Homo sapiens: one gene and its partners. The protein of the gene in region 4 purifies or fractionates together with the protein of the main gene of each other region. This does not show direct contact. Each region holds a gene or a part of one and is shown on either strand. Other genes may lie near its edges.

The links. The genes of interacting proteins can lie anywhere in the genome.
Region 1: the proteins of CTH (region 4) and RPE fractionate together in Homo sapiens (co-fractionation; one large-scale study listed by BioGRID). This does not show direct contact.
Region 2: the proteins of CTH (region 4) and PLAA fractionate together in Homo sapiens (co-fractionation; one large-scale study listed by BioGRID). This does not show direct contact.
Region 3: the proteins of CTH (region 4) and WDR1 fractionate together in Homo sapiens (co-fractionation; one large-scale study listed by BioGRID). This does not show direct contact.

Annotation. Positions count from the first base shown.
Region 1 is NC_000002.12:210,019,638-210,022,875, reverse strand, and holds the end of RPE (ribulose-phosphate 3-epimerase), read right to left. Parts: intron 3,208-3,238; coding exon 3,085-3,207; 3' UTR 616-3,084; downstream 1-615. UniProt on the Homo sapiens protein: Catalyzes the reversible epimerization of D-ribulose 5-phosphate to D-xylulose 5-phosphate.
Region 2 is NC_000009.12:26,926,628-26,930,242, forward strand, and holds part of PLAA (phospholipase A-2-activating protein), read right to left. Parts: intron 1,782-3,615; coding exon 1,681-1,781; intron 1,594-1,680; coding exon 1,473-1,593; intron 1-1,472. UniProt on the Homo sapiens protein: Plays a role in protein ubiquitination, sorting and degradation through its association with VCP. Involved in ubiquitin-mediated membrane proteins trafficking to late endosomes in an ESCRT-dependent manner, and hence plays a role in synaptic vesicle recycling.
Region 3 is NC_000004.12:10,089,185-10,092,799, forward strand, and holds part of WDR1 (WD repeat-containing protein 1), read right to left. Parts: intron 1-3,615.
Region 4 is NC_000001.11:70,416,818-70,422,347, forward strand, and holds part of CTH (cystathionine gamma-lyase), read left to right. Parts: intron 1-1,119; coding exon 1,120-1,215; intron 1,216-4,748; coding exon 4,749-4,858; intron 4,859-5,530. UniProt on the Homo sapiens protein: Catalyzes the last step in the trans-sulfuration pathway from L-methionine to L-cysteine in a pyridoxal-5'-phosphate (PLP)-dependent manner, which consists on cleaving the L,L-cystathionine molecule into L-cysteine, ammonia and 2-oxobutanoate.

The DNA.
Region 1 (3,238 bases), on a different chromosome or scaffold from region 4:
ATCCCCTCCAGAATAAGAGCATGTTCTGCATGTATTAATCTTTTATGCTGTTTATGAAACAGGCAAGATAAGTCTGTTTTTCCTTCTGGAACCATAAGGGTAACCAGATTTTCATCTACAGACAAGTGGTAGTCATTTGTGTTTATCATGCAACTTACTTACAAACACCAAGATATTAATTGCTGCAACTTGATGTCAAATCACATTACTGGGTAATTTTTAAGACTATGTACCCACACCATACATACATACATATATATATACACATACATACAAACCTGTGTGCCAAGTGACAGCTATTTTTTTATATACATGGTAATTCATTAAAATTGCCTTAGTAATATATTAGAATATACAAATATGTGTGTATAAAATAAACATACACACACACACACACCCCTATGTAGTTTTTAAAACACTGGCAATGACCCACTCCCCTTGGAAATGCATGTATGAACTACCCTATGAAATGTAAGCTGCAGAATAGATAAAACACAGGTTTCCACTAATAAAAGACATCTGAACGTCCTGAATATAGAGACAGAAGTTTTTTGTTGTTGTTGTTGTTGTTTTAACATGTTTAACCAACAGAAGTTATTTACAGAAATTCATATATCCAGGCAACACAAAACTCCTTTATTCAAAATCACTGCTATCTTTGGGACTAAACACAGGCTACTTTCTGTTTACTCCTAACAAAATAAAGCAAGCAAATTTGAGTCAAATATTGGTGCACTTTAATACTATCACATCTTTGAAAACTCAATTTGAGTTTTACCAATTAATGTGTCTCATGAAGAGAAGACACCAGTTTTAAAATGAGCCACAAACAGTAAAGCCCTATCAGTATAAAATTTGAAAAAAAAAAAAAAGATGATTGTATTTCTAGATTAGCAAGAAATTAGTTAATTCTGGCTGATTTCTATTTCTAGCTAATTTGGTCATTCTTTGCCATAGCTTACTCTATTCAAATAAACATATATTCTTGCTTGCATCCTAGATTGGAAATTAAAATTTTTCAAAGAACAAAGCTTCAATATTGGATACTGAAGAGTATACATGAAAGAAAATTCCTTTTGAAGCTATTAAACCATTTTTTTCCTATGTGAAAGTTGAGGACAATTTATATAACTCACTTTTTGTCATGTAAAAAAGGTTACTCAAGTTGTACTACCCACATAACTGAAAATATTGGCCATTTGGCCTTATCTGTGAGATTTGACACTAAGTTTTTGTTAGAGATTGGAAATTATACTAGTCCTTTTAAGGGGTAAAAAATTCAATTCAATACTGACAAACTTTTGCTTGTAGTTTTACTGTACATTTATTTTTAAAGAAAAAGAAAACAAAAGCCAGACAAACCCAAGTTGTCCAGGCAAATAAACTCAAATCTTTGTCACGTCTGATATTATAATCTTCTATGTAAGTTTTTTAATTAAAGTTATTTCTATATGCCGTGTGTTGCTTGTTATTAAATGCGACGTATTCATGGCACAAAGCTTTCCCAAGCTGAATAAAAACAAACATTAACAAATTTTTACCTTGTAATGCAGGAAGAAACCCAAGCAAGCTCTAGTCTGTGCTTAAGTGTTAGCATTCTTATTTTTTGAACCTTATTTCTCAAAACTTATAGTAGCCTCAAGAAGTCTATTGATATTGGTCATGTTTATTTCTTGCCATATTTATAACACAGCAAGAGTATTTACAGGAATGAAGTAGCTGACACATATTTTTAGACTCTGTATAATTCAGAACAGTTATAAATATTTAGTTTATGGATTGACTCTGTATCCTGTCATCTTTTCGCCTACCTGATCTTTCTTGGAATAAAATAATATATCCTTGGGGTCAAGATCCATAGTTCCAGAATTTTCTCAGCCATCTGGTTCTGCTACAGCGTAAAATTAGACTGGAAATAAGACAACGTTAAGTAAAAAGCTTCTTTTACCTAACCCACCTCCCAAGGGCTCCATTTGTAAAAGTACAGACCAGAAATTCTACCACTTCCCAGATCCTTTCCAGGGTACCACCCTATTAAGCATTAATTTCTTCATTTTTTAAATGGGGACAAAAATATCTGCTTTATTATTACCACTTACTTATAGAGGTGATTTACAGATTTAATGAGAATATATCAAAGTACTTTATAACTCACAAAAATATAAACTTATATAATGCTGTTTACTTTGTGTTGAGCATATTCTAAATTCTGGGACTAGTACTGGAAACTTTACATATATAGTGTTAGCTCTTAATTCTCAACAGAACCCCACAGTTGCTATAATTACATTTAATGTATAAATGACTTTAGAGAAACACAAAAAAGATTGGGTGATTTGTTAAAGGTCCAGCTAGAAAGGGGCAGTCAGAATTCAACCCAATATTACCTCCAAACAGAGGTTTTACTTTTTCCTTTCTACTCAGAGCTAACACAACAGCATTATTTAACGTTCTTAAGAATGGTGGGGAGGAATCACTGAATAACCTGCTTTGACAAAACACCCTGATAAAATCTATGCTTGTATTTTAGAACCCCTGGGTTTCACACATTGTTTTTATAGTTTTCACACATCAAGTGTAAGGTGAAAAGTGATAGATTTTAAGAACCAAGAATATGGTATGCACCCCACCCAAACTTATAAACAAATCACAATAACATGAAATAGAAAAAAACCATAAAGACTTCCTTTGCTTTTGGAAAACAGCTGAGAAACAACAAAATTCTTTTCAGAAGTACAGACAAAATTTGTTTTTGTAGTGTAGCTAATATGCCCTCCTTAGACATTAAGACACTTTTCTGTTTGTAACCCTAATGCAGCCGTATTTTTACTTTATAAAAATCAAATCTCTCAATAAAAACAGTATCTTACTCACTAATCAATAAATTGCATCACTAAAAATGTAGTTATACACACCAATTTCTGACCTCTTAGAATATTCTGCACAATCAGTTTTAATCACTGGAATGAATAACTGCTCAAAAAAGCAGTACGGCTTCAATTGCATTGTGATTTGGTAGTCAATATTCCTGTTTTCCAGTAAAAGGGAGATTTCATGAACAGGAACACTGGGCTCCTTATGGTTTCACCGATCAAGAGAACGTTTCTGAGCAGCTTCTGAGCAAACATTTCTTAATAGATTGATCACAGATCTGGGGTCTTCACTCCTCATAATAGCACTGCCAGACACAATCATGTTAGCTCCTGCCTGGAAGAAGTAAACAGTTAGGTTATGCCTC
Region 2 (3,615 bases), on a different chromosome or scaffold from region 4:
CTAACATTATAAAACATATCAGTGAGTAGTAAAAATTAATTTTCAAGTTAGAGAAATCTTTTTTTTTGTTGAAAGCCTGATAACCAAAATTTGTATTTAAGGTTTAGCAATATTTTTTTATCACCAGTCTTCAGAAGTTATTTTACATTCATCCTACCTTCTCCAAAAACCTCCAGAAATAGTATTTTGACCCCAATAATTTGTTTTCACCTGAAAATTCATTTTTAATTTTTCTTCCCCAACAAGAGTAATTTATAAAATATATAATATTCAAATATAAAAGAAATATATAACAAAGAGTAGCCCATAAATTTAAGAACAAAACATTCTCTGAAGCTTGTGAAGTCAGATTTCCTATGTTCAGTATCTGTTGACTTAAGAGTAGCTATCACAGATTAATAATGACTTGATACATATATATAGACTATATACTGAAGCAGAAACAGAAGGATGTTTAGTCATCATCCACTTTCCATCAAAAGATACTTTTTTTGTTTTTCTTTTTTTTTTTGAGATGGAGTCTCACTTTGTGGCCCAAGCTGGAGTGCACTGGCACTACCTCTGCTCACTGCAACCTGTGCCTCCAGGGTTCAAGAGATTCTTGTGCCTCAGCCTCCCGAATAGCTGGGATTACAGGTGTGCATCACCACTCCTGGCGAATTTTTTTGTATTTCTAATAGAGACAGGGTTTCACCATGTTGGCCAGGCTGATCTCGAACTCATGGCCCCAAGTGATCCACCCACCTCAGCCTCCCGAAAGGCTGGGATTACAGTTGTGAGTCACTGCACCCAGCCAAAAGATACTTTTATCTGTACAAAGGGACTTCTTGCATATTATCTAGGGTAGTTACCAACTTTTAAGGAAAAAATTCAAAAAGGAAAAACAACACCAATTAAAATTAACAGTAAATACTTAAGTACCCTACAAATAAATCAATGATATTACTATTAGATAGCAGATGCATCAGTATTGGCATTATTTAATAGCTGGGGTTTAAAAAGAATACTCACCATAAACCACAACATAAACAAAGCTTGAAATTCGTTATAAACAATGTGCTTCAATATAAAGACACTAATAATGATTTCTTCCATATATGAAGATAACACTGCTGACTGACCATCAGTAAGGCTTATGTTTAGAAGTTTCAGGCTAAAAGTATTAAAATGACAACCAAAAATATAACTATATACCAAAAATTACATACATATATGCAGAAGCACATATGCATATTATATATAGCTTATCAGACAGCTATTTATCAGTCTACATTTGGCTGTTTTATGAGAGGTTTCATTATCTTTTTAAATGTATTAGATATTAACTCATCAGAAAAATTACATTAACTCAAATTAATAGCTTAAATATACTAATGTTTTTCAAATATTTTCATGCTTGTAAACTTCTGAGAAAAAAAATCTGAGCAAATAAAAAGCAATGATATTATAAAACTTGTCTACCCTGATCTTACCTGAAAAAGTCCTCTCACATCTTCCAGCCTTCCACAGTTTAACAGTCTTGTCTGCTGATCCAGTCAACATTAAGCCCTGTTCAGGTAAGATCTTTACCGCCCACACTGCAGCTGTATGACCCTGTGAGTAAAATGAGTATCAATTTAAGTTGCCACAGAATCATTCAACTTAATTATTCTTTAGAATATTTACACAGAACTACTGTACCTGCAAGGTCATCATGCACTTGTCATTCAGCCAGACTTTAGCAGTGGTGTCCCATGAACCACTAAGTAATGTCCCAAATTTTCCAGATGATAGACTACAAACTAAGGAAAAAACATCATTGGATAACACATTTTCATACAGAAAAATGCTCAACATTGAAAGTTACTAAAGCATTCCAATTTTAAAAACACTCTTTGAAGTGGCAGTATCTTAGCTAACTAAGGCTCAATTCAGCAGAGACGCATAAGAGTACAGTGGTCAAGAGCAGACTCTGGTGCCAGACTGCCTGGGCGCAAGGCCTAGCTGTGCCACTTACAAGCCACGTAACTGCAGAAATATTACTCAAAATCAGATTCCTTGTCTGTGAAACGAGGGAGCGGAACTTAAGTGAGCTACACAATCCTTCCAGCTTTAACAAATCATAATAGGGAGATAATGTAAATGATTTTGAAACACTGTTTATATAAATATTTAAGGCTGCTTTCATGACAGTGACCATAAAACCTGCAGCCAAGCTCAATGTCCAAAAGTAATGAAGTGGTTAATTAAATGTCTTACTTTCTTGATGTGAAATTATGCAGGCTAAAAATTACAAATATGAAAAATTATGCCAGGCACAGTGGCTCACACCTGTAATCCCTGCACTTTGGGAGGCCAAGGCAGGCGGATTGCTTGAGCTCAGGAGTTAGAGACCGGCCTGGGCAATGTGGAGAGACCTCATCTCTACTAAAAATACAAAAAAATAGCTGGGTGTGGCGGTATGCGCCTGTGTTCCCAGCTACTTGGAAGGCTGAGGTGGGAGGATTGCTTGAGCCCAGGGCACAGAGGTTGCAGTGAGCTGTGATCATATACCACTGCACTTCACGCCTGGGTGACACAGCAAGATTCTGTCTTTAAAAAAAAAGAAAGAAAAGAAAAATTAGCCAGGTGGAGTGGCTCATGCCTGTAATCCTAGCATTTTGAACTGAGCTCAGGAGTTTGAGACCAGCCTGGGGCAATATAGTGAGACTCCAGCTCTAAAACAAAAATTTTAAATTAGTCAGACATGGTGTCACGCGCCTGTCGTCCCAGTAAGAGAATTGCTTGAGCATGGGAGGCCAAGGCTGCAGTGAGCTGTGAGAGCAGCACTGCATTCTGGTATGACCAAGAAAGTGAGACCCTCTCTCAAAAGATAAAAGAAAAAAAAAGAAAAATTATCTTAGGAAAGAAGAGTATCATTGGCGGTCGAAGCACAGCCATAAAGAACCTTGGATTGGGAAACCTTTTTCCTAGACCAGAAGGAAGCAATCACAAAAGTCTCTCTACCCTGAGCTGAGGATCCTTGAGACAGCTACTTATTTGGATTTCAGAATGGCTCTAGATCAAAAACTGTTGTCTTGCACTGCTTCCTCTTCTGAATGAGTGTTTGCTCTGATTATCCTATTCCTTTTCCATAATTGTATATTGGGTATGGTTGACAGCTTACTTATAAGCATCACCTCTCTGATGTTTAGAATACTTAGCATCACTCAGAGGAGACTTTTGGATTGTTTGATGAAGCTGAATCGTTGATGACCAGAAAGCATGCTGTGGTAACTCTCCCTTTTTGGACACATGGGAGAATGGTACTTTCCTCCTCCATTTGAAGTTAGGCATAGCCATGATACTTGCATTAGTCACCAGACAAAACGGTAGCTGACACTTTCAGTCACACACATGTTTTTGGTGTTTTTTTAAAATTGATTTTTTTAATTCTCTACTACTGTGACATTCAAGGAAGGCACATGCTTTTAAAAGCCAGTGCCTTATTATTATTATTATTTTTTTTTTTTTTTTGAGACAGAGTCTCGCTCTGTCGCCCAGGCTGGAGTGCAGCTGTGTGATCTCGGCTCACCGCAAGCTCTGCCTCCCGGGTTCACGCCATTCTCCTGCCTCAGCCTCCCGAGTGGCTGGGAC
Region 3 (3,615 bases), on a different chromosome or scaffold from region 4:
TACAAGCTCCGCCTCCCGGGTTCACGCCATTCTCCTGCCTCAGCCTCCCGAGTAGCTGGGACGACAGGTGCCCGCCACCACGCCTGGCTAATTTCTGTATTTTTAGTAGAGATGGGGTTTCCCTTTGTTAGCCAGGATGGTCTCAGTATCCTGACCTCATGTTTCCCCGCTTTGGCCTCCCAAAGTGCTGGGATTACAGGAGTAAGTCACTGCGCCTGGCCAATAATTAACTTTTAAACAAAGTTAATGATTATGACCTTCATCAAGAACAAGAGCCTGAGCGACTAAAAGGAAATGACATGACTTCCAGGGGCGACTCTGTTACTCGAATAAGGAAATGAATGCATTCTTTCCGCAGTCAACAAGAGTTTGTATCAGAGACTGATCCTTAAATAAGCAGTTGTAAAGCTGCCAACACCTGCCCTGCCCTCTTGCTGCCCACCTGCAGGCGGCGCTAACCCGGCAAATGCACATCCAGTGCTAACAACTCTCTTGGCACAGGAAGGGCTCGCTGCTCAGCAGGTACGAACACTAACCTTCAGGAAAAGCAATTCAACCCCAAGGCGGATAAGCTGCCCCGCGCTCTAAGTAAATCACGGACTTAATTTTAAAGCATGAGCTACCTGTGTGGGGGACCTGCCTGTGTTTGATTGTGTAATGTTTTCAGTTGAATTGTGCCTCTCCAAAAGACATGCTGAAGTCCCAACCCTGGGACCCAATGAGACCTTATTCAGAAACAGGGTCTTTGCAGATGCAGTCCAGTTAAAATGAGGTCATTAGGGCAGGCTGTAAATCCAGCAGGACTTGGTGTCCTTTTAAGAGGGAAATCTGGACACAGATACAGAGTTGGGGTGAAGCTGGAGGCAGAGATGGGAGTTCTGCTCACAAAAAGTAACCCCCAGGGCTGTCAGTATCTGGGAAAGACAAGGAAGGACTCGGAGTGCGTCCCTGCCCACACCTTGACTACAGACTTCTGACTTCCAGAGAATAAATTTCCATTGTTTAAGGCACCCAATCTGTGGCTTAACAAACTTTGTTATGGCAGCTGCGGCACACTAACACATGTCATCAATGCTGCCTCTGACACTCATGTAATAACCCACCAAGGTGAGCTGTGCCCATTTCACCAATGAGGAAACATAGGCCCAGAAAGAGGAATCAGGTGCCTGGGGGTCCCAAGGGCCACACTCAAGGAAATCGATGTCCCCACAAAGTCCGTCAGAGTCAGCAGAAGATACAGACACCGTTCAGTCTGGCAATGTCCCCAGGGCAGGCAGTTCTCGTAGAGAGGCCACTCCCCGCCCCAGAAATCTCTCTAGGCCCAAGAGTGATGCGACCCCAGACCTGTGGCACAAAAGCAACCCTGGGCTTCCTGCACTTCAAAGATTAAACCATTTCCTCCAGCCAACAACCCAAACTTGCTTGCCTCAGGTAAGCCCTCCTCAGGGTGCTGCCAAGACCTGCTCACGGCTGGGGTCAGGCTGGACACAGGCCCAGCAGGCCCTGGCCCTGCACCTGAACCAGGATCTCCCACCTCATTGACCCGTGTTTTAACTTAGATGAAAGCCGGAGAAATCACACATTCTGACAAGGGGAGTCCCAGTGCTCCTCGGGAGCTACTGAGGGCGACGACAGTCACGTTTCCATCCCAGTGGATGAGCAGATTGTCCTCCCTGCCTCATTTCAGGGAGTGCTGTCATGGTGCTTGCATTCCGTTCTATGACTGAAGAGCTCGTCCTCTGTAGGTTGTGGTCACCGCCCAAGAGGACAGGGATGGAAGCACCAGGCTGGCTCAGTCTGAACTTGGGCTCAGGTCTGTGATCAGCTCATGAGCGATGGGGCTGGCGAGCCCTTTGCCTGCCCCCCGCACCTGGGTGCTGCAAGGCTTGGCCAGGCAAGGCAGTGCCAAACTACAAGGCGTGCAGTACCCAGGCGGGCCCAGGGCTCACTAGGAGATGGAACGGGGAACACAGGACTGGACGGTCGTCTCTGGCTATGGTGCTAGAGGTCACCCTTCCTTGTGTTTAAGCGCAGTTCTGCATCTTGCTTCTTTAGTTCCTTTTGTACCTTTTTCACTAGTTCTAAGGCTGGTCTTCTTTGCTTAAATGGTCTGTGTTCTAAGTTTTCTAGCACTTCTAGGTATGTGAAGTTGGGGAAAGCAGTTTCCCCAGAAGGCCCGATCCACTCAGCTGCTGAGAGTGAAAACCAACTTTCCAGATGGGGCTCCAGGGCCCTCCAGAGACGCTTTACCCCCCGAGGGGCCATGGAGAGCCTGCGGGCAAATTCTTCACAGGAGAACACCAGGCCTGGAGCAGCGGGTAACTCAAAGCCACATCACCTGCACGAATCTGGTCTCCAGTTTCCTGTCCAGAGCTCTCGTCTCAGCTGCGCTGGCTCCTGGGCCTTGGGCAGCTGCTCAGCAAGCCTGGGGGTGCTCCAGCCCAGAGTCATCCCAGAGGTCAGATCCCTAACTCCGCAGGCCCATTTGCATCCCCCCTTCTGCTGTTACCCACCATGAGGGAGCCGTCATGCACTGAGGGCCTGTTCCCGTCGGGGTTAGCCGATGGGGTCCACCTCCTATCTGTGTCAACATGGCCCACGGTCCCTTGTCCATGTCAGTCCATAGGGTCCACATTCCCTGTGTCAAAGGGCCTCACAGGGCAGTTCCCGAGAGAGCTGCAGGAAGGAGCCGGCTGCAGTGAAGGCAGTGGTGGGAGGGCCTGAGGCAAAGCACTTCTAGACCCCCTGTTGGGCGGGGGGTGGACAGGGGTGTATGCACCACTACTCCTTCCAGATGAGGCCACACAACCTTGACCATGACATAACCACAGCTCGAATCCTAGACCTCTGACCAGCACATCGAGTTCTCTCGCTGCCGAACTCCGCTTCCTTGGCCAGCACAGCCTCGCCTTGCCGCTGACTTCGCACTGGCTCCTCCAAGCCAGCCTGAGCTTCCTTGAAGTGCAGTGGGCCAGGGAGATGGCTGGGCCTGGCTGACCCCTGGGTCCTTCTGACGAATGAGTTAAGAACTAAGAGAAAAGAGCTCACCCCAAATGCCCGAATCACCCAAGCCCAGATGAGTGGGTGGGACAGTGGACGCTGATGGCTCTTGCTACAAAATGGAGGAAACTAATCAGCCACTGTTCAATTCCAACCTGTCACAAGTGCCCATTTCAGTGGCTCCCTGAGGTCAAAACATGGACATTCCTACTCCAGTTCCAGGTCCCAGAAGCGAGGACATTCCTGCTCGCGCAAACCCCAGGACCCCAAATCCAAGTCTGTGGTTCACCTCTGCCGACGCCTCCCACAGGCTCTGGCAGGGTGGTGTCATGTGTCCCTCCCTGGCCCCAGAACCCAGCAGGGGCAAGGGAGGGGCCCGGCACAGTCCAGGGACACAGATGCCCCTCGAGTAGCTCATCCCCATCACCTTTTCCTGCACCTCGAGCCAAGGAGTCCAAATGCAGACACTGATGTCTGCTCCTGAAATAGCCCCTTCAAAGAGAGAAGCCGCGAAAAGCCCATTAACCAAAAAAAGCGAGGGCTAAAAATAGCCCTTTCCACACGGAGGCCCGGCCAGTGAACAAAGAGGGAGAGGGATTGGGGAACCTCCCGGGG
Region 4 (5,530 bases):
TCCCAAAGTGCTGGGATTACAGGAGTGGGCCACCACGCCCAGCCTTTTTTTTGTATTTTTAGTAGAGATGGGGCTATTTTGGCCAGGCTGGTCTGGAACTCTTGGGCTCAAGTGATCTGCCCACCTCGGCCTCCCAAAGTGCTGGGATTATAGATGTGAGCCACCACACTTGGCCTAAACTTGCTTATCCTCTGGTTTATTCACCTAATAATTTGTGCCTGAGAATAGCACTAAAGTTATTTTCAGTGGTCAATAACTCCTGATAATGTGCTGTCAGAGATTAGAGATTAACTCCCTAAACTTTTTTTTTTAATGAAGAGAGTCTTGTGTATTCATTGTGATTACACTTATCAGACAAATCTCAGGTCTGATTGCGAGTTTTGTTAAAATATTTACTGAATTGCATATTCATATAATTAACGTATGAATCATATCTTTGCTCTATTCTTTATGTTTGAAATTTCTCTTTTCTTTCTTTTTTTTTTGATATGGAGTCTCCCTCTGTCACCCAAGCTGGAGTGCAGTGGTGCAATCTTGGCTCACTGCAACCTCCACCTCCTGGGTTCAAGCGATTCTCCTGCCTCAGTCTCCCTCGTAGCTGGGATTACAGGCATGTGCCACCATGCCTGGCTAATTTTTGTATTTTTAGTAAACACAGAGTTTCACCCTGTTGGCCAGGCTGGTCACGAAATCTTGACCTCAAATGATCCACCTGCCTTGGGCTCCCAAAGTGCTGGGATTATAGGCATTAGCCACCACGCCTGCCCTGAAATTCCTTTAGTTTGCTATTTTTAAACTGTAGTTTAACTGGCAATAGGCCTTTTATCTCAGATATTTGTAAAGAATTATTTTCTTGAAGTGTTTCAGAGAAATATTATTACCAAGGCAAAATTGACTTAACACAAAAGTATCTGTCCACATTATATATTTTTTATTTTAAAGATATCTTATTCTTGAAATAGAAAAGGAGATTTTGTAATGGTATTAATCAGGGGCCTCTAGCAACTCAGCAGTGATGGCTTCCTATCTGCATTAAAGTAAGTCAGGTAAATACTTGGAGGTGTGTTGTAACCTATAGGCCTGACTTTTCAGCTTACTCTAACTTGATTTTTATTTTAGGTTTGGCCTTTGCTTCAGGTTTAGCAGCCACTGTAACTATTACCCATCTTTTAAAAGCAGGAGACCAAATTATTTGTATGGATGATGTGTATGGAGGTAGGTGACCCCTCTCATTTATATTCTGTAAACTTGTATTTTACAGATAATAAAGTGAGCCCTGAATTAATATTAACAATGTTGCCAGTATTTTTGATTATTTATTATAGTTTACAGGTGTGACAGGTACCTCTATGCTCTCTCAGACTTGGGAAAAGAGGAGCATAAACACTTAGGGTCCATGTTCTGGAACTGCTTATAAGAGAGATTATTTATTTATTTATTTGTTTATTTTTAGATAGGATCTCACTCTGTCACCCGGGTTGGAGTGGAGTGGTACGATCTCAGCTCACTGCAGTCTCCGCCTCCTGGGTTCAAATGGTTCTCATGCCCTAGCCTCCTGAATAGCTGGGACCCCAGGCGCATGCCACCACACCTGACTAATTTTTGTATTTTTTGTAGAGACGGGGTTTCGTTGTGTTGGTCAGGCTGGTCTGGAACTCCTGAGCTCAAGTGATCCTCCCTCTCCAGCCTCCCAAAGTTTTGGAATTACGGGCGCGAGCCGCCTCACCTGGCCAGAGATTATTTACTAAGAATAGTATTTAAGGTGCTAGAATGAATACGTAGCACTTGATCAACTTGCAGACATATTCTGCTCTAGAGAAGATAAGGTTTAGAGAGACAGTGTTCTCCTGTAACTTAATTTTTACCTGTAATAAAGATGAAATACAACTCAGGTTACTCTCAAGAGTTCAACCCCACACATCCCCTTTTGCTTTTTATTTTTTGTTTGGCACCAGGGAAACTTTCAAAAATTTGTTGAGAGATATGGGCCTCTTTTCCCAAAAAATGTTCTTAAGACTACACTGAGTGATTAGCATTTTAATTTTAGGGGTCTCATGGATTGAACCGCTGAAGCCCATCTATGGCTCTAAATTTAAGAACTTCCCATTAACTCTTCATTTAGCATTAGGTATATCTCCTAATGCTATCCCTCCCCCCTCCCCCCACCCCACAACAGTCCCTGGTGTGTGATGTTCCCCTTCCTGTGTCCATGTGTTCTCATTGTTCAATTCCCACCTATGAGTAAGAACATGTGGTGTTTGGTTTTTTGTCCTTGTGATAGTTTGCTGAGAATGATAGTTTCCAGCTTCATCCCTGTCCCTACAAAGGACATGAACTCATCCTTTTTTATGGCTGCATAGTATTCCATGTGTATATGTGCCACATTTTCTTAATCCAGTCTATCACTGTTGGACATTTGGGTTGGTTCCAAGTCTTTGCTATTGCGAATAGTGCCGCAATAAACATACATGTGCATGTGTCTTTATAGCAGCATGATTTATAATCCTTTGGGTATATACCCAGTAATGGGATGGCTGGGTCAAATGGTATTTCTAGTTCTAGATCCCTGAGGAATCACCACACTGACTTCTACAATGGTTGAACTAGTTTACAGTCCCACCAACAGTGTAAAAGTGTTCCTATTTCTCCACAACCTCTCCAGCACCTGTTGTTTCCTGACTTTTTAATGATCGCCATTCTAACTGGTGTGAGATGGTATCTCACTGTGGTTTTGATTTGCATTTCTCTGATGGCCAGTGATGATAAGCATATACCTAACGCTAAATGATGAGTTAATGGGTGTAGCACACCAACATGGCACATGTATACATATGTAACAAACCTGCATGTTGTGCACATGTACCCTAAAACTTAAAGTATAATAAAAAAAATTTAAGAACTTCCATTCCAAAGAAATTAAATGTTAGCTATTTAAAGTGGTGAATGTGGAGAAGACAGGCTTGCCCTTGCCTTTAAGCCCACTGATTTTTGTATTTAAAACAAAAGCAAGGAATTTTGTGAATATACATATACATATATTCCAGATGCTTCCAAATAATTAAAATGTGATTTCTAGAATATTATCATTTTATCTATTTCCTATCTGAACAAAAAGTTAAATCACTAAGTCCTTTAAAACAGCAGTTCCCAACCTTTTTGGCACCAGGGACCGGCGTGTTTTTTTTTTTTTTTTTGAGGTGGAGTCTTGCTCTGTTGCCAGGCTGGAGTGCAGTGGCACGATCTCGGCTCACTGCAACCTCCGCTTCCCGGGTTCAAGCGATTCTCCTGTCTCAGCCTCCCGAGTAGCTGGGATTACAGGCATGTGCCACCACGCCTGGCTAACTTTGTGTTTTTAGTAGAGCCAGGGTTTCTCCTTGTTGGTCAGGCTGGTCTCAAACTCCCGACCTTAGGTGATCCACCTGCCTCGGCCTCCCAAAGTGCTAGGATTACAGATGTGAGTCACTCGTGCCCGGCCTCAGGGACTGGTTTTGTAGAATACAATTTTTCCAGGGACAGGGGGATGGTTCCAGGATGAAACTGTTCCACCTCAGATCATCAGGCACTATTTAGATTCTCATAAGGAGCATGCAATCTAGATCCCTCGAAAGTTAGATTCTCATAAGGAGTGCACAACCTAGATCCTTCCCATGAGCAATTCACAGTAGGTTTCCTCCTGTGAGAATCTGATGCTGCCGCTGATTTGACAGGAGACTGAGCTCAGGGAGTCATATTGCTTACCCGCTGCTCACCTCCTGCTGTGTAGCTGGATTCCTAACAGGCCACAAACCTGTACCTGTCTGTGGCCTGGGTTGGGGACCCCTGCTTTAAAGGAAGGGACTTACTCTTAGTAATCATTTTATCCCTCAGAAATTTGCACAATGTTTCGTATTTTATCTTAGTTTCTTATATTAGCTTGTTGAGTTGAAATTATAGAAATCTGAAACCTTTAGATACTTTTATAATGCAATATAAAAGTCTCATGGCAAACATAGGTATAAAATCCTGAAAATTGTTGATTTTAAAGAACTTTTTACATTATTTTTCAATTTTATATTACCTAGGGTCAGTCTACATACCATCAAAAGTCTAGTTTCTCATTAATGACAGAATATTCTTTTGTTGTTGTTGTTGTTATTGAGTATCAATATCAATTTTTTCTTTAAGTTTTTATGTGTAAAAATCAAATCTAGGTGTATTTATAAAAAATTATTTTAAGTCAAATGATTTACCTTGTTTCACTGTAAAAATCTGGTAGTTTGATTTATATTGTCTCATTTTATCGATTAAAACTTTCAGAACTACATAACAAAAAGATCAAAAAAGTACAAAGAATAGTAACCAATTCTTTTCCATTACAAAGTATATTGAAATTTATTTTGAACCTTTCATTGACATTGATTCATTTAGTTTAGAGTTGAGAACTAGGTAGAAATTGTTTGAAAAGATATGATGTTTCAGGAAGCATGTCACTTAGTGGAGATTGGATGTTTTGAAAAACATTATTTGCTTCATGCTACTTTTGGATCTCAAGTGTGTTTTATTTGACTCTTGAGCCTTTAGAGAACAAACCTTATTATTCTTTACTATATCAGATAGCCAAACTATTTAACCAAACTAGAATTGCTTTTAGTTGCATTTTCCTTGGTGACTGAGAGTTCCATATATTTTGTAAGTGTTTATACATAGAAGGAATGAATGTTTCTTAATGCAATGTTCTTTTCATTTTATCTGATTCCCTTCTGTCTCAGGTACAAACAGGTACTTCAGGCAAGTGGCATCTGAATTTGGATTAAAGATTTCTTTTGTTGATTGTTCCAAAATCAAATTACTAGAGGCAGCAATTACACCAGAAACCAAGGTAACTCAGCTCATTTTCAGTTTTGCCTGTTTTTCCTTCGATGTTTTGTTTTCATCATTTCTGTTTACTAGAGGATATAATTTAATGTGAATAACAAATTTTATTTTATGCCATTGGAAACATCAACAAAATTAAGATAGACTGTCATCTCCGGGGTGTTATAGCATAATGGTAGTACATGATTTCTGGAGTAGAATTCAAATTGTGATTCTGTTATCTTAGTTAGTATATTATCTTGGGCAAATTATTTAACCAAAGTCTCAGTTTCTTCATTTGCAAAATGGAGATAATTATACCGGTTTTATAGAAACGGGAGTGTGAGAATCAAATGAGATAATGAATATGAAATGCTTAGTATAGTTCCTGGATACATGGTAATTGTTAAAAAAATTTCTATGCAGGAGCACCTAATTTTTAACTGCATAGCCAAAAGAGTATTGGTAACAGAAGTCATCACAGAGATTGGACTATAGAAAAAGAAGCCTGCCAAACCCCCAAACTCGAAGCACAGTGGCTTTGCCGGGCTGTAAGGGATGCTGCCCAGATACTAGTTAGATGTGGAGAATAGGCCACAAGCAATCTTTAGCTTCCATCCTGGGAAATTTGTATGCCACCGGAAGGTGTTTTGTGTCTGAGTGAATGGCATATGTGATATTCTTTCTTGGGACCTTA